4 linked regions of the Homo sapiens genome follow. The protein of the gene in region 1 interacts with the protein of each later gene in a pairwise test. Each region holds a gene or a part of one and is shown in the gene's direction. Other genes may lie near its edges.

Region 1 (4,026 bases):
TTTGTTTGTTTGTTTGTTTTTTTTTGAGATGGAGTCTCACTCTGTCACCCAGGCTGGAGTGCAGTGGCGCCATCTCAGCTCACTGCAAGCTCCACCTCCCAGGTTCACGACATTCTCCTGCCTCAGCCTCCTGAGTAGCTGGGACTACAGGTGCCCGCCACCGCGCCCGGCTAATTGTGTGTGTGTGTGTGTGTGTGTGTGTGTGTGTGTTTAGTAGAGATGGGGTTTCACCGTGTTACCCATGATAGTCTCGATCTCCTAACCTCGTGATCCACCCGCCTCGGCCTCCCAAAGTGCTGGGATTACAGGCGTGAGCCACCGTGCCCGGCAAGGGCTTTGTTCATTAGGATCAACAAAGTGCTTTGTCTAATTCCTGCAAAATGGCAAAGACCCAGCCCATTTCCATTACTCATTCCAGGCTCATGCTCAGGAAAACTAATAACGTTCTCTTTGACAAAACAATTTCCTTAATTTTCTAGGATGAATCTTGAACATGTTTAGCTCAGCCTTTCAGATATTTATTCTTTAAATTACCATCCTGTCAAAATTGCCTTTACGCACTGATCCAGAATCACCAAGGCAGTTGCCACGATGCCTCCCAGGACTGTGGGTGACTGGGCAAACTGGTAATGACCCGTTGGCTCTGCTTCACACACACACATACACATTGACACACATAAATGTACACATGCATATATGTGTGTACAACACAACTATAAAACATAGAAACATATACCTGTACATATGCACATGCTTACATACACACATATCACAGATGTGCATGCACACATACACATGCACACCACCTTTTACAATATGCCTGACACATTTGAGGCACATTAAAATGCCTTGGCAGGCCCAGCCCTATAGTTCTGTAAGGTTTGGCAGGCCAAAGGCTTCGGATGTCTGCAGGATACCATTGAAAAAATGTTATCTTCCCCTTCTATATGTTTCTTATGCACGAGCACAGCTAAGAGCAGCCAAATAGTAAGCTTTAAAGAAAAGAAACCTGGAAAAGTGAATGTGCCTTGCAATTTAAAAATTGCTAACAGTTTCACAGTGGGAAAATTGCATTTGTTGGAATTTTCCAAGTCATAAGCAAGAAGAATAGCATAGACCCAAAACGACAGAGATCTCTTCCAAGGTATGGAATTGTGGAAATTTATTTAGAATATTTGCTTGGTGATCCAGAGAAGGGGGAAAGAAGTGGTGAGGAAGAATATATGGGGTGATCCCTCCAAATTGCCAACTCCTCGTCTTAGGAAGAAGTGGGCAGTTTCCATTGATCCCTAGCATCAGTTTGACGGGAAAACCGGTGCATTTCATCAACCTCAAGGAAAGGAAGTGCCATGCATGGAGGCCTGGTGATAGGCAACATCCATTTAGAAGAACAGTCACACAAGCAACAGAAGAACTATCCAAGACTAGAAGCTTAGAAGCTTATACCAAACTCTCTGTCTCTCTCTCTCTCTCTCACACACACACACACAGAGTGGATGGGAGGGGACATTAAGAGGAACCCTAGTGCAGTTCCCCCAAAAAACCTTGGCATAGAGTATAACAGGGAAAAAGTAATTACTGGGAAGCTGAAAACAATCAAATATGTGAGGAATGACTGAATATGAGCTGAGGATAATGTAAATTGTTCTGGATTGTCTATAAGATAAAGATACAGAGCCTGAATCTATGTTTTTCTGAATAAAGAGACCCCATATTCTCTTTTGAATTATTGACCTATAATTCCTCTTCAGCAGCTTTGAATACACTCAAGTTCTCTTCCTATTGTTTATGATCCCATAATACAACCACCCACTATTTGTTGTGGTTTACAATCCAGCTTAGAACCCTTGAGCAAAATTATTGAATTATTGAATGCTAGGCCCAAACAAAAGAAATTTCAGCTTGGTTTTAGTAATTTCTTGATCAAACTTCTCTCATTCCTCTAAATGTACAAAGGTTTCAAAGTTGTAAAAAATATGTCTACATAGCCAATGCTCTTAGTATTTTTAACAGCAAAGATAATCTCTGCCAATAATTATTAATGACAAAATAGTGATAACTGTTCAATGTTGCTTTAACAGTCCAATTGTAGTAGGTGAGAAAACAAAAAAGAAGAGAAGCTATGTTGAATATTTAGTAATGTTGGAAAAGATCCTCACCCTAGACATAAAATAGTTTAAACATTTAAACATGGCCCCTCTCTTATTGTCATTGCTAGTGAAAGAAGTTCCTGAAATTGCATATTACATTGTAAAGTTTTGGGCTAAATCACAATACATTTTTAAGTTGCTTCCATGGCAATAGATCGTAAGACCACAGCTTGTCAAAGTAACCACTAATTCAGTATTCAGAAACCTTATCATCTGTTCCTCCAAAAAGACCCCATAGTTAATGTTGTGTTTCCCAGTATTTTAGTTGGGTTTCTTCACACTTAGGCAAGTGGGTGATTCTGGTCATAATAAACTATTTTCAAACTAGGAAAAAGTATCCAAATGCTAGAGCACATAATGAGTTCAGCTTGGTCAGTTTTGAGACAGATAAGCATAAAACCCTACTAGAAAAAAATAATAGTCAAACCTAAAGCTTTAAAAAATGTGAGTCACATCACTTTTCTCCAGGAAAGGCAGAACGTGCTCAGGGTGGAATTTAATCAAAAATGTACCCAGAACAATTTCCCACAAAGAGCTGTAATACTTTGCAGCAAGGGGCATTAATAAACTCTAATTTTTACCGAAAGTCAAGAGACACACAGATCTTTTTTGGTACCCTCTACATCATCATAGCAAGGCCCTTCTGAACATTAACAAGCCTAGATGTTTCTACTGCTTATTTGCAGTATCTACAGGGGAATGGTTCGTGGATATAAACAGAAATGTTTTATCTGAAGAGGCTGTGTATGCCACCCCAGACCCCTGCATTTCTTAATATCTATAAAAATATGACTAAACTTGTTACATTTGAGGCAAATATGTACAGTATTTTTCCCTTTTAAAGATAGTTTAAAAAATCAAGGTAATAAAAAACGGCCAACTCTTTCAGGAAAAAAAAAATCCGGTATTTTGTACTACTTGAGTTTCTCTAATGCCTAAAATATGCATTTAAATCATCCCACACCTACACAGAAACAAAATCAGCAGGGAAAACCATCCCACTGATGATTGGCAATTCCACCGTTCCTCTCCATCTGACCAGCTTTCACCAGAGGGCGATCTTTCATGCTTGCACATCGAGTTTATACAATGTAGAAGCCCCCAAGTCACCTGGGAAATGGCTCATGCCAAATACATGGAGTCCTTAGTTGACTATCTTTTCATATTAAAATCCCATCTTCCAATGAAGCATCCTGTTTTCAATACTGATATCAAATTTCGAATGTAAAGGAGATTTCAAATGTATTGCTTTCACCTTTTCTTTTTTATTCATTTATTTTTAATTGACATAAAAATTGTATATATTTATGGGATACAATGTGATGTTTTGATATATGTATGCATTGTGGAATGATTAAATCAAGCTAATTAACATATCTATCATCTCACATATTTCTCTTTTTGCTTTCACTTTTTCGGGTTTATTTCTAATCCTCTACTAAGCACACAACAAAGAGTCAAATGTCGGTGGGCCAGGGGAATATCTCCAGTTTGATTTTTTTGGGGGGGGGGGACAGAGTCTCACTCTGTCACCCAGGCTGGGGTGCAATGGCGTGATCTTGGCTCACTGCAACCTCTGTCTCCTGGGTTCAAGCGATTCTCCTGCCTCAGCCTCCCAAGCAGCTGGATTTACAGATGTGCACCACGCCCAGCTAATTTTGTATTGTTAGTAGAGACGGGGTTTCACCATGTTGACCAGGCTGGTTTTGAACTCCTGACCTCAAGTGATTCACCCGCCTCGGTCTCCCAAAGTGCTGGGATTACAGGTATGAGCCACCGCGCCTGGCCTTTTCTTTCTTTTTTATGTCCAGGTATTTCATTTCTCTTTAAGAGTAATTAGTATGGGTTCTTCAGTGTTGTTTATGTTTTGTTTTGT
Region 2 (7,614 bases), on another chromosome or scaffold:
CGAATATACCACTATTTGTTTATTCACCCACTGAAGGACATTAGTTTTGTTCCCGGTTTTTCTTACTGTTACAAATAAAAATCCTATGAACATTTGTACACACAGGCTTTGTGTGAGCACAATTTTTTACTTCTCTAGGATAATTACTGCAGAGTATGATTCATGGGTCATAAGGTAAGTGTATGTTTACCTTTGTAAGATACTAACCAGAGTGGTGTTTCATTGCTCACCAACAATATATAGAAAGGTTCAGTTGCTCCACATTCTTCCACTTGATGCTGTCAGTATTTTTTTTGTTTTGTATTGTTTTGTTTTGAGATGTAGTCTTGCTCTGTTGACCAGGCTAGAGTGCAGTGGCACGATCTTGGCTTGCTGCACCCTCTGCCTCCGGGGTTCAAGTGATTCTCCTGCTTCAGCCTCCTGAGTAGCTGGGATTACAGGTGCCTGCCACTGCGCCTGGCTAATTTTTGTATTTTTAGTAGTGACGGGGTTTCATCATCTTGGCCAGGCTGGTCTCGAACTCCTGACCTTGTGATCCACCCGCCTCAGCCTCCTGAAGTGCTGGGATTACAGGCGTGAGCCACCACGCAGGACTGGAATGTTTTATTTTACCTATTCTATTGTGTGTGTATTGGTATGAATACAAACATACCAATTGTATGTGGCCTTCCATTTGCACCTCCCTAAAGGCTTTTTTTTTTTTTTTTTTAAGAGACAAGGTCTCACTATGTTGCTCAGGCTGGAGTGCAGTGGCTATTCACAGGCACCATTATAGCACACTACAGTCTCAAACTCCTGGTCTTGAGAAGTTTTCTGTCCCAGCCTCCAGAGTAGCTGGGACTGCAGGCATTTGCCACTGTGCGCTGCTTAGAGCATTGTTTATTAATGCTGGATAAAGATTTTATCCAGCTGGATAAAGGTTTTATATCACTTGCAAATATTTTTCCATAGATGTGGTTCTTTCTTTTTTTCTCTCAGAGAAAAAGATTTTAATTATGATGAAGTCCAACTTTTTTTTTTGAGATGGAATCTTGCTGTCTTGCCCAGGCTGGAGTGCAATGGCATGATCTCGGCTCACTGCAACCTCTGCCTCCCAGGTTCAAGTGATTCTTCTGCCTCAGCCTCCCGAGTAGCTGGGATTACAGGCACCTGCCATCATGTCCCACTAATTTTTGTACTTTTGTAGAGATTGGGGTTTCACCGTGTTGGCCAAACTGGGCTCAAACTCCTGACCTCAGGTGATCTGTCCACCATGGCCTCCCAAAGTGCTGGGATTACAGGTGTGAGCCATTGCACCCAGCCTTTTTTTTTTTAATGGATTGTGGGGTTTTGGCATTACATCTAAGTATTCCTTCCTTACTGTAATTGATAATTCTTTTTCCACTTCCTTTGACAAAATAATGTAGTTTTGCTTCTTTTTTTTTTTTTTTTTTTTTTTTTTTTTGAGACAGAGTCTCACTCTCTCACCCAGGCTGGAGTTCAATGGCATGATCTTGGCTCACTGCAACCTCCGCCTCCTGGGTTTAGGTGATTCTCCTGCCTCAGCCTCCCAAGTAGCTAGGATTACAGGCACGCACCGGCATGCTCAGCTAATTTTTGTATTTTTAGTAGAGACGGGGTTTCACCATGTTGGCCAAGATGGTCTTGATCTCCTGACCTCGTGATCTGGCCACCTCAGCCTCCCAAAGTGCTGGGATTGCAGGCGTGAGACACCACGCCCAGCCAGTTTTGCTTTTTAATATTTAGCAATATCCATTTAAATTCATCTTTGTATATAGGGTAAGGGTTAATTTAAAGTTCAGCCTATGGTTGCCCAGTTGATTCAACAGTATTGAAAACACTGTCCTCTTTCCATTAAATTGATTTTGAACATTTGTAAAAATCAGTTGCCTGTTCTTGTGTCCATTTCTTGACTCTATTCTGTTGATGTGCGTGTCTATCACTCCACTAATAATCTACGGTCACTCCCATCAGAAATGACATAATATGCTCTATGAGGTAAAACAGCTATGTTACCTCATATAAAATGTTCAAAGCCAGAACCTGGACTTTGGGAAATGTCCCATATCCCTCTCCGGAAGCCCGCCTCCCAGTCTCTCGGTGTTCTTAGAGATGGCGAAGGATGGGGTTGCAGCACCAGAATTCCAGAATCGGAAGTAGGTTCTGATACGTGTTCAGCCTTTGGCAGCTGCTACTGTAGCCTTGAAAGCCTGATGCTGCGTGTGAATCCGGATGGGGAGCTTGTGGGGACGACCATGAAGTGGAAACGCATGTGAATGTCCGTGTTCAGGGGTTTTATTTCAGTTTAGTCACCGAGGAATATGGGTGTGAGAAAGAGACCCTTGGGATGTCAAAGGTTAAGGCTTAGTTTTAAGAGTTTAATGACTGAGGGTCCCACGGACAGAGCTTGAGGTCTATATGTTCACTTTTCATGAGTCTCAGTAATAGAAAACTGGGGAAAGTGTGTCTCAGTGAATGCTGTTTTTTGCTCAGATTTGCAATTTAATATGGGGCTCAGATACAGAGAAGCCCGAGCTAGGAAGAGGAGTGGCGTGAATGAAAGGTCTAGGGGGAGGAGTGTCAAAGGAGTGCCTCTGTGGTAAGTTTTAAATTGAATTTGAAGGCAATTTTATTTAGAGGAAGACGGGGCTTGTCTGTGTTTGAGAATGTAATGAGGCTGGAGGCTTTCAGGTGTGCAGTTGAAGGTTAGTGGTTGCTTTGAGACTAACTGGATGCTGGAAACACTTCCTGTCAGTCTTTCAAGTCCAAATCTGTCCTGAAGGTTTCTATTTAAAAACTTTTTCTTCCTAGGTCCACTATTCTCATTGTACCCATAAAAATCAGAGTAATTCAGGGTGACGAAGTGGTGTCTTTACCGAGGAGTCTTGCTCTGTCGCCCAGGCTGGGGTGCAGTGGCGCGATCTCGGCTTACTGCAACCTCCGCCTCCCGGATTCAAGCGATTCTCCTGCCTCAGGCTCCCGAGTAGCTGGGATTACAGGCGCGCGCCACCGCGTCCGGGTAATTTTTGTATTTTTAGTAGAGACTGGTTTCGCTTTGTTGGCCAGGCTGGTCTGGAACTCCTGACCTCAGATGATCCGCCTGCCTCGGCCTCCCAAAGTGCTGGGATTACAGGTGTGAGCCACCGTGCCCCACTTCACTTTCTTAAATGTTGTGTTTAGAAGCACAAACTTAAAAAAAAATCAAGTCCACTTTATTAATTTTATTTTGTTTTGTGGGTCATCCTTTACTCTCCTCTCAGAATTAACTCACGTCCATGAGGATTATCTCCCTTTTCCTTCTCTAAGTTTTATACTTTCTCTTAAACTTAGATCTATGATCTATTTTGAGTTAACTTTTGTGTATGGTTTGAGGGTCCTAACTCATTTTTCTGGATGTGGATATCCAATTATCCCAGTGCCGCTTGTTGAAAAGACTATTCTTATTGAATTGTCTTGGCACTTTTGTCAAAAACTCTTAACAATATTTTTATACTCTCAATTCTGGCTCTGCTCTTCCCATTGGCACCTTTACTAAAAGTGGCCTTTCTAGGAGGCCCAATTCCTTTAGTCTGTCGTGGCCAGGCTCACATCGTAATTCATTCTCAAAATCTCTTTTCTCTCCTCTCCTCTCCTCTTTTCTCTTCTTTTCTCCTCTTTTCTCTTCCTTCTCCTCCTCCTCTTCCTCCTTCTTCTTCTTCTTTTTTGTAAATAATAATCATTTTTTCGAGGCCAGGCGCGGTGGCTCACACCTGTAATCCCAGCACTTTGGGAGGCCGAGACAGGCAGATCACGAGGTCAGGAGGTCGAGATCATCTTGGCCAACATGGTGAAAGCCAGTCTCTACTAAAAATACAAAAATTAGCTGGGCGTGGTGGCGCGTGCCTGTAGTCCCAGCTACTTGGGAGGCTAAGGCAGGAGAATCGCTTGAACCAGGGAGGCAGAGGTTGCAGTGAGCCCAGATCTCGCCACTGCACTCCAGCCTGGCGACAGAGCAAGACTCCGTCTCAAAAAAAATTATAATTTTTTTCTTTCTTCACCACCCGCCCCCCCGAATACCTGCTATTTTTCTGTTCTTAAAAACCGCTTCCTGCAAGCTAATTTTCGCCAGACGCTTTCCCGTGGGTGTCTGCCTACCTGATGTGTTGCCTTTTCCCTTTCTACCTGATCTGTTACCTTTTCCATTTCCAATTCATTCTCTGGGATACCTACACCTGGCTGCACTGTTACTTGTCTTTTTCAAAACCTTTTTTTTTAAATTTAACAAAGTGGATGGAAAAGCGCTAAAGGCAATTTAGCTTGCCCCATATTTGCCTGATAAAGCCTGAGTCTCTGAAAATCTGCCCCCTTTCGCAAGACTTTAAGTGCCAGGAAACGAGGCGATTTCAGTGACTTCTCTTCTTCCCTGGCTCCTGGCTCAAAAACCTGCCACTGCCTTCTGTGCGTCCAATTTTCAAACATGGCTGCCGTCAGGAGCCACGGCTATGGGCGCGGCCATTTTACAGAGTAGGAAATGCCGTAAATGCGCTTGTCCTTGCTCTTTTAAACATTTTAGGTTCTCCTCGGCCGCCGTAGGTGGACCATAAACCCGTGCGAGGACTCCAGAAGTAGGAGCAGTTTACGGAAGTGTAACGTTGAGGCCCTTCTTGTGTATCTGGAGAAAATAGAGGTCAGTGTGTGGTTTTGTCCCTGAAAGTTTTTTGTCCTAGTTCAGGTTTTGTCTCAGTGGAAGGTTTGGGAGATCTGAGGACGTGGTGTACCCTGGACCACATAGTTTTTGGCAGGAAGACTGGGGAGCGCCGGGGTATAGGCATTTGGGAGGTACCTGGTGGGAGTCTGTGATCCCCCTGTCTGTGGTCCGCGTGCCTTTGGTGTGAGTACAGTGACTAAGGGTCTGTAGTGATCAACGGCCGTGTCCTAACTGTCAAGGTATGGATCACTCTGCTTGTAAAGGATGGAGGTGGCGATTAGGATCGATGCGGCGTCTGCTTCGGGTTCAGGATTTAATTTGGAACTCAGTGATGTTGGAGTCTGGGAGGATGTCCATCGCTGTAGAGTGTCTGGTCCGTGGTTCGGATGAGTAAGAGGCATGGGGCCAGTGTCTGTGGTACAAAGGCTTGTGAGGGCTGAAGCTTTCGAGACTTTGGAGCCCTGGGTCCTGGGTTGAGGTTCGAACCTCGGTTACTGGGGCAAAAGGCGACACAGCCCCCAGCATTAGTTCGAAACCATATATCTACTCTTCTGATCCTTGGGGTGGCTATTTACAGATCGGGGGGTCAAGTTCAGTCATACCCTCCGATTATATATTGTCTATGGCTGCAAAGGCAGCGGTTGAGTTGTTGTGACAGAGACCTCGTGGCCGGCAAAATCGAAAATGTTGCCAACCTCTGCATTCACTTCTTTTATTTTTTATTTATTTTTTTTATTTTTTGAGACGGAGTTTCACTTTTGTCTCCCAGACTGGAGTGCAATGGCGCGATCTCGGCTCACTGCAATCTCCGCCTCCCGGGTTCAAGCGATTCTCCTGCCTCAGCCTCCTGAGTAGCTGGGACTACAGGCCCACGCCACCACGCCCGGCTAGTTTTTGTATTTTTAGTAGAGACAGGGTTTTACCACGTTGGGCAGGTTGGTCTCGAACTCCTGACCTCAGGTGATCCGCCCACCTTGGCTTTCCAAAGTGCTGGGATTACAGGCGTGAGCCACCGCGCCCGGCCTTCACTTCTTAATATATAGTGAGTGTTGCTTGCCCGCCTTATATTCACACTTTCTTAACAGAATCTCCATTTCGTGAAGTATTCATCCCTGTGGCAAGGCGACCCAAATCCCAGTTTCTTAGTAAGGCCTTGTTGGTCTTAGCCAATCTTGCTGGTTCCAATTGCCATTGCTAGTGATAGGTTTGACATGGAAATGAGCTTAGGCGTATGGTGCAATTCTAGCCAACTATGTATGTGAAAATCTGCCTGGGAGTTTCTGAGGGAGCATTTTCTTTTTTAAATATGTAATTTCTTGAATCTCTTTTTCCATGTTCGTGATGATATCGCCTGAAAATAACATTAATTTTCTGTCTTACTTTGTAATGCTTATAATTCATTCTTATCTTAATGCATTGGCTCAACTTTCCAGTATAAAGTAGGAAAATAGGGTGTTAGTGGACGTTCTTGTTTTATTACCCACCTGTAAAATTCACCCGTTGTGTTGTCTGGAGTTAACACCTTTCCTGGAGGTAAACTGTTTGGTATGGTTGATCTCTTCCTTTACTTTGTTAATTTTTCTACATTTATATATTTTAAATGTACAATTTAATTATCATGGAGGCAATATATGTATAAGCAGTCATTGCCCAGGTCAAGAAATAGAATATGGTCAGCACACCAGTGGTGTTCTGTGAGTCTTTTTCCATTCTCACACCGAAAAGTATTTTAGGCTTTTCTTTATATAATTAATCATTATTTATCATTGTAGTTAATACAGTTTTGCCTATTTTAAACTCTGTATATCAGTGGAATTGTACATCACTCTTTTTTTGTGTCAGCCTTCTTTTGCTCATTATTGGTGAGGGTCTTTCCTGTTGCATCTGAGTATATTTTCTTTGCTCAATGACAAGGATCAGGCGAATTTACAGTAAATATTTTAGGGCTTGCAGGCTACATATGGTCTCTTGCATATGCTAATTTGCTTTTTGTTTTACAGTCTTTCAAAAATGTAAAAAGCATTCTTGCAGGCTGGACCAAAGGTATAATAGGTTTTCTATCACATTCCATTATGTAAAATATAGCAGTTTTTTCTATTATTAATTACATTTGTATTACCTAAAGCTTGTATTATTAAGAATAATGCATGTGTGAAAATTTGTGTAAATGTCTTTTGGTTCATATGTGCTCTCATATGGGGGAGGCAGAGATGTATATCTAGATGTGCACCTCGGAGGAAAATTGCTGCTTCATAGAGTGTGTATAAACTCCGTCTAAATAGATGTCAAACTGTTTTCTAAAGTGGTTGTACCACTTACAGTTCCCCTAGCAGGATATAGTTTGCTTTATAGGGTGCTTTATGTGGCCTCTTTAAAATATCTGGCCATACCCTAATAACATTGAGAGATTCTCCTATATTAATGTTCTTTAAAGCTTTATTGATATGTTTCTACCATTGAAATTGACAGTTGATTCTAAAATGGTTTTTGTGTATGTTGTGAGGGGGGTTTTAACTTTCTGTCCCCATCCCCAGTACCATTTATTGATTTTTTTTTTTTTTTTTAATTTTTTTAGATAGAGTCTTGCTCTCGTCGCCCAGGCTGGAGTGTAGTGGCGTGCTTGGCTCAACTGCAACCTCTGCCTTCTGGGCTCAAGTGATTCTTGTGCCACGGCCTCCCGAGTAGCTGGAATTACCAGCAGGTGCCACCTTGCCTGGCTAATTTTTGTATTTTTAGTAGAGATGGGGTTTCACCATGATGGCCAGGCTGGTCTCCAACTCTGGCTCAAGTGGTCCACCTGCCTGAAGGGGGCCTGCCCCTCCACACCTGTGGGTATTTTTTGCAAGGTGGAAATGAGAGACTGAGAAAAGAAATCAGACACAGAGAGAAAGTACAGAGGAAGAAAAGTGGGCCCAGGGGACTGGTGT
Region 3 (7,663 bases), on another chromosome or scaffold:
CTCCCAGGAAGGCAGTATACTAAAATGCTTTTGCTTTTCTCTTCCCTAAATCCTCCTCCTCCTCTTTTCAGCTTGATTTAGAAAAATAAGGTTCTTAGGCAACTGTTATTGTATGTATAATGCAATGCTCACAGTAGGGGTTCTGTTTAAAAAATAAAATAAATTGAGGCTTGTGGGATAAACAGAGTGAGTCACACTTCTCCCAGATTTCTCTTCCAGGCACTTCAGTGTTGTCTCCACTGTTTGGTTTGTAAACTAAGATGCTGAGTGAAATCTCAAGGGGAACCAACTTCCCAGCTTCAATGGTGTCCAACTAATGTTCTCCCTGGACTCAAGCTGTAAATCAACTCATGGAGAGAAGGAAAAAGTTAGTTACAGTAATTGCTGCCAAGATAGCGAGTAGTTTTCAACATTATCAATTTAATGTAAAGATTCAGCTCATTAAATTTATATCAAGCCTTTCTTATGATTAGAACAAGTTTATTTCCAGAAAAGTTCAATTATAAAACTATCAATAGGATTTACTAATTTCAATAAGTCATTTTGCTTCAGGGTGAATTATACTAATTATTAATACATACAAGTCCCATTTGGACATAAAGAAAACCCTAGGTAGAGAAAAAATAATAATAATTAACTAATCATTGTTTATTTTTAAATAACTAATTTAAGAAGAAAACAATGAAGTGTGTTTGTTCCACACTTCAGAAATAACTCTAACACACTGGCAAATTCCTGAGCAATACAGAGCTCACTGCTAATAAAGAACACCAACTCTCCCTCCTTGGAATGACTTTCCTTTTGAATAAACCATATTAGACAGTTCTATTAAAGGACACATGATCCTTTTTATTTTTCATTAATCTATAAGAATTTAAACATGGCAAAATAATCAAAATGTTAAAAAGTCAACTATTTTTTCATGTGTGATTATTTTAGATGCATCTCTAAATATCTTCAGCTATAACTACTTTATATCCTAAATTTCTAAACATCTAAAAAAATTCAATGGATTTTATCTCTCACATTTCTTTTGTAATCACCTGAGGTCAGATCAAAACAATTAATTTGACCTTAACAATGTTTCTCTTATCTCACTAACTTTTAATAATTACTTTAGGATTCTTTCCCAGGCACTTGATTATGAATAGCAGAAAATCATATGACTGTGTTAGATGGCATCAGCTAATCCTCCAAAGCAACTGCTTCTCTCTGGTTTGGAAAGAAATCAACACCTCAGGCCTCCTCACAGAGATAATACACACTAGGCTATAACCCACAATAATTAAAATTTCTGTTAGCAAGTCTGTGATTTCCACAGCTCCAGCTTACTGCTGGCTGTTAAAGATAACAAAAATTAACAAGGGCCATCTACTATTGTGAGCTCTACTCATTTAGGTTCTTTGGGAATAGGGCAGGATATAAATAAATAAACACTGGTAAACAGCCTAATACCTGCTCCCAACACAAGCTAAGCAAAGGAGGTTAGAAGTGTCAATATGGTCTCACTGGATTCATCCATTTTGAATCATTTTCAACACTGTATTATTTATTATTTCACAAATTGTTTTTAACTGTCTACCACGTGAATCATGAAACCAACCACTAGGAAGGGTATAAAGATATACACTATTCATTCTCTACCTTTCAAAGGTTTAAATGTATTGGAAACACTAAATATAGTCATAGTACTTAAAATTACTATATATCCATGATGGCTTAGACAGTTCATACATGATAACCCTTCAGTCTACCCAAATCCCCACACGACAGATACTGGTTGTCCTTAGTTTATACTGTGCAAATGTAGTACCTATTCTTTGAGTGTCCACCCATTCCCATCAAAACCATTTCCTTCAGGAAAAGCTGATCTCACCTCCAGACCTCTAGGGCCAACTCTATCTATATGGTTAGACGAAACAGCAAATGCACTTTTATTATTAGTGCCAGTTTGGGTTATTTTTTCAAATTTTTGCAACAAAGTGTGATCCACAATACACAAGATCATATTCACTCCCCCAAATTAATATTTTCTTAAAGAGATGGGTGTTATATTTTCCTTCACTTTCTATTTTTCAGACATTAAGGAGAAGCTTGGCTGGCATCACAAAAGCCTGAAACATCATCAAATAAATATTTGTTGAATAAATTAGCTGAACAAATGAATAAGTGAATAACATATTGAATATGAAATAATTTTTCTGTTCATATTTCACCCTTACTTTCCCATGTGAATATGCATGATACCATATTGTAATGATAAAAGAAAACAAAAAACAATTTGATAATGGCACAGCCCTTTGAATTTATTTGTGTTTTCTTAGCTGATTGACAATTTTGCCTACTATCTTTTTATTCTATGGTAAATCATATTGACCTACTCTCTTCCCTGTTTGACATTATTTAAAAATCATTCATAACTGAAGTTAGGTGGCTAACACCTAGAAAATCGGAAATAGAAAAGAGTCACATATGTGACCCTTAGGGCAGTAGAATGAGTGTTTTGTTTTCCTCATAGTCATCAAAAGTGCAATCGATTTCATTCAGCAGCCAACTGCAGTTGTTAAAGAAACTAATGCCATGACTTAGGGCCCTTGTTCTCCAAGGAAGCTGAAGAATGTGTAGAGATGACACACAGCCTGAGGGGAAAGGGTGTGGTGGGGAGAAGAGAAATACTTTGAAAATATTAGTCACACAGACATGCTGAAGATCCTTCACCTCATGAGTGATAACTACTCCAGTGAGAGGTGATTAACTGTTACATTTAAAGTGGGAAATGCCTATATATAGAGAGAAAATGGTTATTTATTTCCAGACCCTGCCAACTTCCATATTGCTCTCTTGCTGTGTCATAGTCACAGACCTGTTCAAAGATAGGAAATATAATTTCTAATCTTCCTGTTCAAGAAATAATTTTATTGATCTCCACTTCATCTTTTATTTTCCCCATGATTCAGCAGGTCAAAACTGTTCCAGTTCCAGTAGCATCCTATCAGTCAGCAAAATGTCCATGAGGTTAAAATGTCTTACAAGTTAATAGGAGGTGAAGAAATTCATTTCAGCACCAAGGAGAGTGCCCTGCTATTTTCAATTGGTTTTATGTATTTGAAACTGTGTATTGTTCCTGAGGATAGAAAAAAAAGTTGAAATGTGATTGGACAGAAAGCTGCTAAAAACCTATTTTAATAAGAAGAAAAAAATACATTCATTTTTCTGAAATTAAAAACTTGCCAGGGTTTCATACCTGTTCATGATTGCAACAATGTGCTCTTCTTTTGGCTTTCAAACGTCGGAATTAGCAATTCTTTGCCTATTTTTCTAATATTAAAACCAGTTTCTGCATGGAATTAGACTGGCTCAATAAAGTTACAGAAGAGTTAAATTAGCAGTAATTAAAAACTTCATGCAGCAACTCCTAAACTTTTTCTCACCATTTTCAGAGCTGTGCACATGGTAAATGCTCAATACATATTTAAGTCAAGTGAAAGAGAACAAATGAATGACTGGCATCCATTAAGTGAGAAGGAGGAACTAATAAATGCCTTGTTTGTAATGAAAGTCATTTTTTGCAACTAGTCTCAAAGATCCTCACATACGACATTGCTCAATCCGAAACTTGAACACAGCCTTCCTGGGCCTACATAAACGTAGTCTCTCTGGATCTCAGAAAAATAATGACCCAGACCACACCTTTCATCTCTTCTAAGTTTTCCATGTAAAGCATTCTCCTTAGAGCCCTGGAAAGGTTACTAAAATTTTGACCCACTTAATCCTACACCTTCAGGGCAACATGGCATTCACCTGTGGTTTCCTTAATGCCCAAACCAGCCAGCCAACCTGTTTTCTGCCGTGTTAACAAATGGACAGGACACAGGCACCAGAGGTTAAACTTTCTTCCTCTTCCCCCATGTCCCCAGGTGGACCATTATTACCATCCCTATTCCCAAGCAACCAGGTAGCCCCTTCCTCTGTGCCAAGGGAAGAAAACACCATGCTTCCCTCTCCTGAGAGACCTTCAAGAGTTTAGAGACGCCTAAGTCCAGCTGTGCTAAAAGATAAAGGACAATAATGCAAGTCTGCTCTGAGCTGCCACCATAGCCAGACATAGGGTAGCCCTGAAAGACTAGAACCAAGGACAGAGCCAAAGGTGAAAGAAAATATGAAAAAGTGAAAACACAGTATTTAAACAGAATTTTCCAACAGCCTGCATATAGTGAGGACTTCTCAAGCTTCTGAATCCTTTTCCATTGAATTGTGCAATGGCACATGTATGAGCAAAGTCAAGCCTCCTGGCTCCCAGGTAGGCACAGCCCAGTTCTTAGCTCCTAGGAAGCTTCAGGGCTTAAAGCTCCACTCTACTTGGACTGTACTATCAGGCCCCCAAAATGGGGGGAGCCGACAGGGAAGGACTGATTTCCATTTCAAACTGCATTCTGGTACTTTGTACTCCAGCACCATTGGCCGATCAATATTTAATGCTTGGAGATTCTGACTCTGCGGGAGTCATGTCAGGGGACCTTGGGAGCCAATCTGCTTGAGCTTCTGAGTGATAATTATTCATGGGCTCCTGCCTCTTGCTCTTTCTCTAGCACGGTCCCACTCTGCAGACTCAGTGCCTTATTCAGTCTTCTCTCTCGCTCTCTCCGCTGCTGTAGCCGGACCCTTTGCCTTCGCCACTGCTCAGCGTCTGCACATCCCTACAATGGCTAAAACAGCAATGGGTAAGGCACTGCGCCTCGTTCTCCGTCGGCTCTACCTGGAGCCCACCTCTCACCTCCTCTCTTGAGCTCTAGAAGCATTCAGAGATATTTTATAAAGAAAAAGATGTTAATGGTAACACAGGACCAGGAAGGACAGGGCAGTTCTGGGGGAGGTGGGAGGGCAGAGAAGAGGTCTATGGAAATCTAAAGCGAAGAATTTCTTTTAAAAGGTAGAAGCGGGTAAGTTGCCCTCCTATGGGTAGAGAATTTATTCTGTTTCCATATTTAAAATTAGGACTCAATCGTGAGGGGAGGAAGCTACCTTAACTGTTTGCCTTAAATGGGCTTAAGGGACATTTTGGAAAGTGCTTTATAACGACCTTTTTTTTTTTTATTTCTTCTCTAGTTTAAGAAGAAAATAGGAAAGGGGTAAAGGGAAGGTGGGAGAAAGGAAAAAGAAAATTGCAAAGTCAAAGCGGTCCCATCCCGCTGTTTGAAAGATGGGTGGAGACGGGGGGAGGGGATGGAGAGAACTGGGCACATTTTACGGTATTGTCTCGTCGAAGAAACCGCTAGTCCTGGGGTGCGGTGCAGGGAGGTAAGACGGCGGGGGACAGGGTGGGGGTAGGACCTCCGCTCCTTTGTTTTAGGGCAAGGGAGGGGAAGGAGAGAGGAAGTCGCGGAGGGCGTGGAGGGCGCGGGTGGGCAGCTGCAGGGGCGGGGAAGCGCGCGGCAGGGAGGGGTGGAGGGACAGCGGCTTCGAAGGCGCTGGGGTGGGGTTTCTTTGTGTGCGGACCAGCGGTCCCGGGGGGAGGCACCTGCAGCGCTGGGCGCACAATGCGGACAGCCCCACCCAGTGCGGAACCGCGCAGCCCCGCCCCCCCGCCCGGTGCTGCATCTTCATTCGAAAGGGGGTCGGGTGGGGAGCGCAGCGTGACACCCAGGAGCCCAACCCTGCGGGGACAGCGGCGCCACGCCCCGCGCTCCCCGCTCCCGACTCCCCGCCGCGGCTTCCAAGAGAGACCTGACCACTGACCCCGCCCTCCCCACGCTGGCCTCATTGTTCTGCTTTTAAGAGAGATGGGAAAAGTGGGTTAACATTTTTCTTTTCGGAAGCAAATTACATAGAGTGTTTAGACATAGACACAGATAAAGGGTTCTTTGAAGACCTTTGATCGTTTGCGGGAAAAGCTTCTAGAACCTAGACATGTGTATGTATAATAATAGAGATGACATGAAATCGTATATAAAGCAAAAGAGGTCAAAGTCTTAAGTTAAGCCACGCGAAATTTCCGTTTTGTGGGTCAGACAGTGCCAAATATCGGCAATTTCATAAGCTCAGAGAGACAAGACAGTGGAGACACAGGATGACCGGAAAAGATTCTGGATTCAGGGCCTTCATCCGCAATTGGTCTTGTGCCTTGAGTGCCCACGGTTCTGGCGCTCAGTGGCCCCGGGGTGAAAAGGCAGGGTGGGGCCTGGGGTCCTGTGGCAGCTGGAAGCACGTGTCCCCCGGGACTTGGTTGCAGGATGCGGAGACAGGGAAAGCTGCCGAAAGGACTCCATCTGCGCGGCTCCGCCCTGCCCTACCCTCCCCGCGGAGCCGGGGAGACCTCAGGCTCCGAGACTGGCGGGGAAGAGGAATATGGGAGGGGCAGTTGAGCTGTATGCAGTCCTGGAACCTCTTTTTTCAGCCCCGCAGTCCACAACGGCCCGAGCACCCCTTGATGTGCGCAGACCCCCGGCGTGGCTCTCAGCCCCAGCACCGAGCCCCTCCCAGCCAAGCGGGTGGCTCTGCAGAAAAGCTGGCTCGAGCCCCGCCCGGCCACACAAAGGCGCGGCCCCACCCAGCCCGGGCGCGAGACCGCAGAGGTGACCCCCTTCCCAGGGATTCAGGGAGGGCTGTCTCTTCTCGCCCACCCACGGTCCGCGGAGCTCGGGGCTTTTTTTCCCCCAGCCCAAGCCCCCCGCCCACCCTCTGTTCTCTATGATTTTCCAGAATGGAGACCCCGCGAGGGGCTTCTCTAAGGGAGACCCTCGCTCCTCCAGCGGGGCGCGGCTCGGCCCCACCCCTCCCAGCTGAGGCCCAGAGCCGCCTACCGCTGGCCGGGTGGGGGCGCACGTGGCGACTGGGTGTGTGGAGCGCAGCCAGCCCTGCAGAGCCCCGCGCCGCGCCCTGCGCTCCCCTCCCCGGAGTTGGGCGCTCGCCCCCGCGGTGCAGCCGGGGAGACCGGTTTCTGCGCAGTGTCCTGAGCTACCCCCGCTTTCCACAATTCGCAGTTCACTCGCACGTCCAGAAAGGTTCTGAGAATGGGTGGTGGGGGCGATCTCGCCTCGCTTTCTGCACCCCTCAGAAAGGTTTCCGCTGCAGGCTAGTGGCTGCAAACTCATCGTCATCATCAGTATTATTATCATTTCAAATCGTTGTTATTATTTAATGATTCAGTAGCCTTGTTTGTTCTCATTTGTTCAAAAGGGACGTGGATTGCTCTTGGTTAAGGATTAACCCTTGTTGCGTTCGCTTTGCTTCCTCCTAATTGCCCTCATCCCTTTCCCCCACAAAAAGGTAAATTTGTCTCCAGTTGTTCATTTTAAGTTATAAAGCAAATATATTTTTGCTTCCTGCCAGGATTATGTATGTTCATGTGGCTAAGATACATGTGCAAGTGCTTGCTAAGAGCAGGGTTTGTGTGCCAACGATTGCTGGAAAATTCTCTGCAAAGAATTGTTTGTGGCTGCAATGGGTGAGAATACACATATATAATTGAGATGATCTTCAACATAAGGTTATATCTATAAATATATAAATATAGTTTATGCACAAAATTTTAAGTTTTTTCCCCTGAAACTGTTCTTCCAACTGCTGATTCTTGATACAGCCTCAATCCTACACAGATACATGGATCGTGAAATGGTAGCCGCCATCCAAATAAAAATCCCACCCCAAATATGACAAACGCAAG
Region 4 (7,608 bases), on another chromosome or scaffold:
GAATTACCATATGATCTAGCAATCCCACTTCTAGGTATTTATCAAAAAGAATTAAAATTAGGATCTCAAAGAAATATTAGCATTCCTATGTTCATTGCAGCACTATTCCCAATAGCCAAGATGTGGAAATAACCAAAATGTTCATTGACAGATGAATGGATAAAGAAAATGTGGGAGGTGTGTGTGTGTGTATACACAATGGAATACTATTAGCCTTAAAAAGGAAGGAAATTCTGCAATATGTGACAACATGGATGAACCTTGAGAACATTATGCTAAATGAAATAAGCTAGTCTCAGAAAGACAAATACTGCTGCATGACTCCACTTACATGGGTATCTAAAATAGTCAAATTTATAGACTCAAAGAGTGGGATGATGGTTAACAGAAACTGGTGAGAGGGGAAATGAGGAGTCACTAATCATAAACTTTTAGTCAAGCAACATGAATAGACTCTAGAGATCTGCTGTGCAACACTGTACCTGTAGTCAATAATAAGGTATTGTGCACTTAAAAATTTGTTAAAAGGTGGGCTCTGTGTGGTGGCTCACGCCTGTAATCCCAGCACTTTGGGAGGCTGAGGTGGGCAGATCATGAGGTCAGGAGATCAAGACCATCCTGGCTAATACGGTGAAACCCCATCTCTACTGAAAATACAAAAAAAATTAGCGCGGCGTGGTGGTCCGTGCCTGTAATCTCAGCTACTCGGGAGGCTGAGGCAGGAGAATCTCTTGAACCCAGGAGGCAGAGGTTGTAGTGAGCCGAGATCATGCCATTGCACTCCAGCTTGGGTGACAGAGCAAGACTCTGTCTCAAAAAAAAAAAAAATTGTTAAAAGGGAAGATCACGTATTATGTGTTCTAACCACAATAAAAAAAAGAAATCCTAATGTTAAAAGACCAGTGCTTAATAAAATACAGAATAGGAATGGGAAAAATTAAGGAGGTACAGGCCAGGCTCTTATAAATATGTAAGTAAACTAGCTATGAGAATACACTTTTTAGAGGGTTTTCCTTTGTTTGTACAGAATTATATTTATGAAGGAAAAAAGTTGTATAGAAACAGGCAGTGTATATGAATAATACCACCAACCTTCAGTTATCTATCTAATGAAATGGAAAAAGATATGGATAATATAAAGGAAATTTTATTTTATATAAGTGGAGAATACATACACATATTTACACACATAATCCATATACTTGGAGAAATATTCATAAATACTTAGATGTCAGGTAAGGTTGGATCCTCAGATGTCTGTTCTCAGCAACTTATTGAGTTGACTCTACTAGTTACTCTCAAACCAGCCTGTAACCAGCTGGATGATCCAAAAAAAAAAAAAAAAAAAAAAAAAAAAAACTAGACTAAACATTTGTCAAGTTTCTTGCTCTTTATAAAGCATTTTGACACACATTCTCTGAAGCTATTTATTAGTTGCACTATGCATTGTACAAATATTGCTATAATAAAAGATTTAGAATTAGTTCCTTTAAAGTAACCTTCCAAATTACAAGTGGTTTTAATATTCATTTCCTTTCAAAAAAATTTGTTTTTTAAAGTTGAGGTCTCACTCTGTTGCCTAAGCTGGAGTGCAGTGGTGCTCTCATAGCTCACTGCAGACTTGAACTCCTGGGCCCAAGAAATCCTCTCACTTCAGCCTCCCCAGTAGGTGGGACTACAGGCATGTGCCATCACCCCTGGCTTGGTATTCATTTATAATATTGTGTCCGGCATTGGTTCCTTCCAGTGGGTTCTTGGTCTCGCTGACTTCAAGATGAAGCTGTGGACCCTCGCGGTGAGTGTTACAGTTCTTAAAGATGGTGTGTCCGGAGTTTGTTCCTTCAGATGTTCATATGTGTCCTGAGTTTCTTCCTTCCAGTGGGTTCGTGGTCTCGCTAACTTCAGGAGTAAAGCTGCAGACCTTCACAGTGAGTGTTACAGCTCGTAAAGGTAGTGCAGACCCAAAGAGTGAGCAGCAGCAAGATTTATCATGAAGAGCGAAAGAACACAGCACCCACAGCATGGAAGGCCACCAGACTGTATTCCCGCTGCTGGCTCAGGTGCCCAGCTTTTATTCCCTTATTTGGCCCCGCCCACATCCTGATTGGTCCATTTTACAGAGTGCTGATTGGTGCATTTACAAACCTTTAGCTAGACACAGAGCGCTGATTGGTTCGTTTTTACAGAGTGCTGACTGGTGTGTTTACAAACCTTTAGCTAGACACAGAGCGCTGATTGGTGCGTTTTTACAGAGTGCTGACTGGTGCGTTTACAAACCTTTAGCTAGACACAGAGCGCTGATTGGTGCGTTTTTACAGAGTGCTGACTGGTGCGTTTACAAACCTTTAGCTAGACACAGAGCGCTGATTGGTGCGTTTTTACAGAGTGCTGACTGGTGCGTTTACAAACCTTTAGCTAGACACAGAATGCTGATTGGTGTGTTTTTACAGAGTGCTGACTGGTGCGTTTACAAACCTTTAGCTAGACACAGAACGCTGATTGGTGTGTTTTTACAGAGTGCTGATTGGTGCGTTTACAAACCTTTAGCTAGACACAGAGCGCTGATTGGTGCGTTTACAATCCTTTAGTCAGAAAAGTTCTCCAAGTCCCCACCCAGCCCAGAAGCCCAGGCGGCTTCACCTCTCAATATTAAATTGTTTGGTCAGATGTCCATTTATGTATATTATATTGTCTAACATTACAGTTTAAATGGACATTTAACTGAAAAACTGTAGTAAAATTAGTGTTAATAGGTGTATAAGTGCTGAGAGAGAAAGGGATATTTAATTGAGCTAGACGTATGAGTATTGTCAAGCATGGGTTCAAAAAGAAAATCTTTGAGGCCTATCTTTCTTCGTGGCTAGAGACAAATGAGAAACAGGGATTCTTCCTGGAAGATGTACCCAACTATCTGTAGCCTTTCCTAGTCCTGTTGACTTGATCCTTGAATAGATTCATATATATGTTTGAACCTGATTCAAAAAAAATGGAGGTAGCCAACCATAAGTCTCAAAACCAGCAGAGAGGAGATATGCGTAAAGGGGAAGAGCCATGTGATTTGTTAAAGTCAAGTTAACTAGAATGCTGAGTCCAAGTGTGGGGTTATGTGGGAAGGCCAGTGGTGTGTGAGGTACACAGGTAGGGTGAGTTCAGATCATGAGAACATTTGAATGCTGGAGTCTGGAATTTGTTCAGCAGAGCGTGGGGAGCCATGGAAAACTTAAGTGGATATTTTTTAAATGTGTCAAAACTTACCCAGAGTTTTGACACAGAGAGGAAGACTTTGCCTGACCTTTGTATCTCCTTTCACCTGTGTATCTCCAGTACTCAAAGAGTTCCAGACACATAATAGGAGCTCACTGTATGAATTCAAGTGAAGAGAAGGTGCCCGGCTGGCATTGCAGCCAGGACAGGGCTTGTGGGTTTAGGTTGGGCAGTGAGGAAGTTGAATGAATGAACTTAAGGGGACATCTTTGGAGAAATTACACAAGATCTAAAAGCTATCTAGGATTATTTAAAAAACTTTGGGAGGCAATTTGACAATATACACCAAGGCATTTATAAATATTCCCATCATTTGATCCAGTAATTCTATGTGTGGGACTCTATGCTAAAGTAATAATCCTAAAGGAGGAAAAGTTTTATGCATAAAGAAGTTTTGCTTCATTATGCTATATGCTTCAAAAGCAATATTACAGTATTGCTTTTTAATAGAGAAGAAATGGACACAGTCTAACAATTGGGAAACAAGTTGTGTACCTTCTATCTGTGGGGGTATTTAATATGTTGTCATTAAAATTATTCTAAAGACAATGTAATACTACAGATAAATCCTTAAGTTTAAAAACGTGCAAAATTGAACATAGAATATTTTAAGTCATGGGAGTGTGCGAAGTGAAGGAGAAATCTCTCTCAGTTAAGTGTTTGTCCGGGAGTGGTAAAACACTTTTTCCTTCTTTTTATCTTTATCTTTCTGTGTATTTTCCAAATTTTACATAGTTACCTCATTTACTCAAATACTTATTAAGCATCCACTATGTGCCAGGCGCTGCTCTAGAGAATTGCGGGTAACAGTGAATAAAACACAACTCCTGTCCTCGAGCCATAACATTTACAAGATAAATCAACTAAATGTCATATGAGACGGTTAGTGCTCGGGGAAAAATAAGGCAAGGAAAGAGTAAAACTGATACTGCATTTACTTTTTTAAATGGAGGGGTAAGGTACTCCTCCAGGCAGAAGAACAGCAGGCTGAATTCGGAATTGCCCCAGCGGTAACAGAATGAAAGAGCTTGGGACACGCCAGCCTGTCAGCAACGTTGCAGCCGAGGCGGGGCGCGCGGGTTTAGGATGGGCGCGCGACAAGGTGAAGCGGATCACGTGACTCGAGGGGCGGGAGGAAGAGAGCAGAGTTTGGCCGGGCACCTTCCCTGCGAAAAGGCGGGCGGAGCCGAAAACCAAACAAACGACTTCTGAGAGATTGGGGGCGGGACTGACGGCGGCCGGCTTAGCTTCCAGAGCCAAGGCCTTCCGCCGAGTTGGTTTTTGGGTTGTTGATCGCGGTGGCCGGGCGGTCTGCGGTCGGGCTGAGACACGCGGAGCAATGGCGACCTTTGTGAGCGAGCTGGAGGCGGCCAAGAAGAACTTAAGCGAGGCCCTGGGGGACAACGTGAAACAGTAAGAGCTGCCCTAGCACAGCGTCCAGGCCAACACGCGGGTGCTCTCCTGGCCTCGGGCTGCCAGCCCGCCCCGGAGACGCCCGCGTCGCCCGGGGGCCTGTGCAGCCTGGAGTCCGCGGCGGCGGGGCTTCGGGGTTTCTCCGGCCGGGGCGGGGCGGGCCACCTGAACTCACCGCCCTGGAGAGACCGGGCCTCCTGGGCGCCCGGGAGACATCGGCGGGCGCCGTTGCTCGGGACTGTCTGCCCTGGGTGGGGCGGGAGAAGCGCACTTCGCACCCAAGGGCCTGCTGAGCAGGTGCGGGCCCCAGCGCGGGCGTGCGGGATGCGGGAGGCTGACTTGGGCGGAGTGAGCCGGAGCCCTACGCGTCCAGCCAGAGGGCATAGCGCAGGGCGGCCCGCCCCTGGAGGGCTTCCTGGAGGTGGAGGCCTGTTGAGCTGGTGTGATCTGCTACGGATTATTGGTAAGCTCTTTTGACAGCAATTTCGTAAGGCAGACGGACCCTCTGGTGAAATCACAGTCATTGAACACTACAATTATAGTGATGATAGCAGTAGCGGACATTTTAAACATTTTAAGCTCTCTAAATATATTATCTAATCCTTACAACAGATGTGAGATAGGTACAGTTGTTATTCCCATTTGACAGATGAGAAGACTGAGACCTAGTGCGGACAAGTAACTCTTCAAAAGTCACTGTCAGAGTTGGGACCCACGCTTTTGATTCCCGACTGATGCATTAGAGGGGCTGTAAAGGATCCCAGAGACGCTCAGCCAGACCTTCATCCAGGTTATGGCAGGGGACCTAGTGCACAGTCAGGTTAGGTGCAGAATGGCCAAGGGTAAAATCAGTATCCAGTCAAAGCCAAAGCCAAAGAGCAAAAAAGGAACCTCTGGGATACAAGGAAGAGTTTGGAAATTTTCAAAACGTTGTTATTACAACTTTATTTTTCAAAAATATAGGAAGCAAATATAAACGTTTAAAATTACAGTGCCTGTGTTGTTGCTGCTAGATGGCTTCTCTGGTATTCTACACATTTGCATTACTCAGTGGATGCATACTTTTAAATGATGTTGGTGGAGGAGCAATTTGGGAATACTTAATTTTTCTCCAATACTTTCTTTTCATCCTTCTCTGTTCTTTATTATTACTGGATTGAAATTACTTAGGTTGGATGTCATACATGAATTTTGGAGTTTTTCCTTCATGTGAAATTTTGGGGTGGCAGAGTTGACAGTCTACTTTTCATCCTAACAAGATAATAATGGAAACTATAAAAAGATTAAAATTAAAATCTAAACTGTTATTTTAGCATAATTATTTAATTTTTGGTGAACATTTATTTACGCCCAGAGATATGTTTCACTTTGTGTTTGGGGGTTGGGGTCTTGCTCTGTGGCAGAGGCCGAAGTACAGTGGCCTGATCACACAGTTCACAGCAACCTTGATCTCCTGAGCTCAAGAGATCCTCCCCTGCTGTGAGCCTATAACTGGGACTGTAGGCACGCCCCGCTAATCCTGGCTAAAGTTTTTTTTTTCAGAGACAAAGTCTTGCTGTGTTGCCCAGGCTGATCTCAAATCCTGGCCTCAAGCAGTCCTCCCGCATTGGCCTCCCAAAGTTCTGGGATTACAGGCATGAGCCACCACACCCGACTATAGTGTACCACCGAAAATTGTCTTTCGATATTGATGTTCACTGTGCTTATTGAATTAAATATTCTTACTTATTTTAATAGGTAAAATTGACAGCTTTCACCCTAATTACTGTAGCTTTTTACTTTTGTAATACCGACTGATAAAATTTACCTTTTTTTTTTTTGAGATGGAGTCTTGCTCTGTCGTCCAGGCTGGGGTGCAGTGGCATGATCTCCGCTCACTGCAGCCTCCACCTCCTGGGTTCAAGCACTTCTCTGCCTCAGCCTCCTGAGTAGCTGGGATTACAGGCACCTGCCACCACGCCCGGCTAATTTTTGTATTTTTAGTAGAGATGGGGTTTCACCATCTTGGCCAGGCTGGTCTTGAACTCCTGACCTCGTGAGCCACCCGCCTTGGCCTCCCAAAGTGCTGGGATTACCGACGTGAGCCACCGCGCCCAGCCAAAATTTACATTTTTAAGCACATAAGGGGCATTTCACTCTGTTCCATCTAGAATGCTTACAAATATTTGAAAGCAAACGTTTACATACCAAAATAAATCTGAAGGACCTGGCTTGTGTATGATTGCCTTTAACCCTGATTAGATGCAATGGTGACCTCTGTCATCCCATACTCATCAGTTACAGGTTCAGGGCTGCCAAAAGTGTTTTTGAAGTTAGCATTCCTTATTTAGTTTTTAAAGGCCAAAGCCGACTGTCTGATGTTGGTCAAATACTGATGCTGAAGCTAAATTTGGTGCATCTGGAGTGTGAATCCCCACTAAAATGCAATCAAAAGAGATTTTTATGCCAGAAACAGTTAATGGTAACGTATAGTTCTAAATTTGTTTTTCCATTCTCTCATTGTTCTTTTCCCTTCTCCTTAAAAAGTACCTCTGGGTTAAATAGTCAGTAATACTCTTGTACTGTACAGTCATTTCTTATATTTCCTCCATGAGCAGTTTGCTTTGGTTTGCACAACCTATTTAAGTGTGGTCCTCGGTGGTAGGCAAAACATACAGGGTTATGCACGGAGGCTGGATATGAGTTATTTGCTATTTATCCAGTGGTCTGAACATCCTTCATGTCTGACTGGTTGGGTTGTGTGCCCAAGCTGCTTCCAGGAAGACATGGGCTTTGCTAGGCAACTCACTTTGTATAGTAGCCAGTAGAATGCCATGTTCAAATAGGTGCCTGATTTCTTTTGAGGATTTGATCATATGTTATTTATTTATGCATTTATTTATTTATTTTGAGAGAGAGTCTCACTTTGTCACCCAGGCTGGAGTGCAGTGG

Evidence for each region.
Region 2: the proteins of PTCHD1 (region 1) and ZNF350 interact in a two-hybrid assay, tested with the Homo sapiens proteins (one study listed by BioGRID and IntAct).
Region 3: the proteins of PTCHD1 (region 1) and STMN2 interact in a two-hybrid assay, tested with the Homo sapiens proteins (one study listed by BioGRID and IntAct).
Region 4: the proteins of PTCHD1 (region 1) and TADA1 interact in a two-hybrid assay, tested with the Homo sapiens proteins (one study listed by BioGRID and IntAct).

Annotation. Positions count from the first base shown.
Region 1 is NC_000023.11:23,400,849-23,404,874, forward strand, and holds the end of PTCHD1 (patched domain-containing protein 1), read left to right. Parts: 3' UTR 1-3,526; downstream 3,527-4,026. UniProt on the Homo sapiens protein: Required for the development and function of the thalamic reticular nucleus (TRN), a part of the thalamus that is critical for thalamocortical transmission, generation of sleep rhythms, sensorimotor processing and attention. Can bind cholesterol in vitro.
Region 2 is NC_000019.10:51,983,822-51,991,435, reverse strand, and holds the start of ZNF350 (zinc finger protein 350), read left to right. Parts: upstream 1-4,595; 5' UTR 4,596-4,666; intron 4,667-6,687; exon of another isoform or gene 6,688-6,730; intron 6,731-7,441; exon of another isoform or gene 7,442-7,614. UniProt on the Homo sapiens protein: Transcriptional repressor. Binds to a specific sequence, 5'-GGGxxxCAGxxxTTT-3', within GADD45 intron 3.
Region 3 is NC_000008.11:79,606,494-79,614,156, forward strand, and holds the start of STMN2 (stathmin-2), read left to right. Parts: upstream 1-4,623; 5' UTR 4,624-4,702; coding exon 4,703-4,721; intron 4,722-7,663. UniProt on the Homo sapiens protein: Regulator of microtubule stability. When phosphorylated by MAPK8, stabilizes microtubules and consequently controls neurite length in cortical neurons.
Region 4 is NC_000001.11:166,873,229-166,880,836, reverse strand, and holds the start of TADA1 (transcriptional adapter 1), read left to right. Parts: upstream 1-4,572; 5' UTR 4,573-4,603; coding exon 4,604-4,677; intron 4,678-7,608. UniProt on the Homo sapiens protein: Probably involved in transcriptional regulation.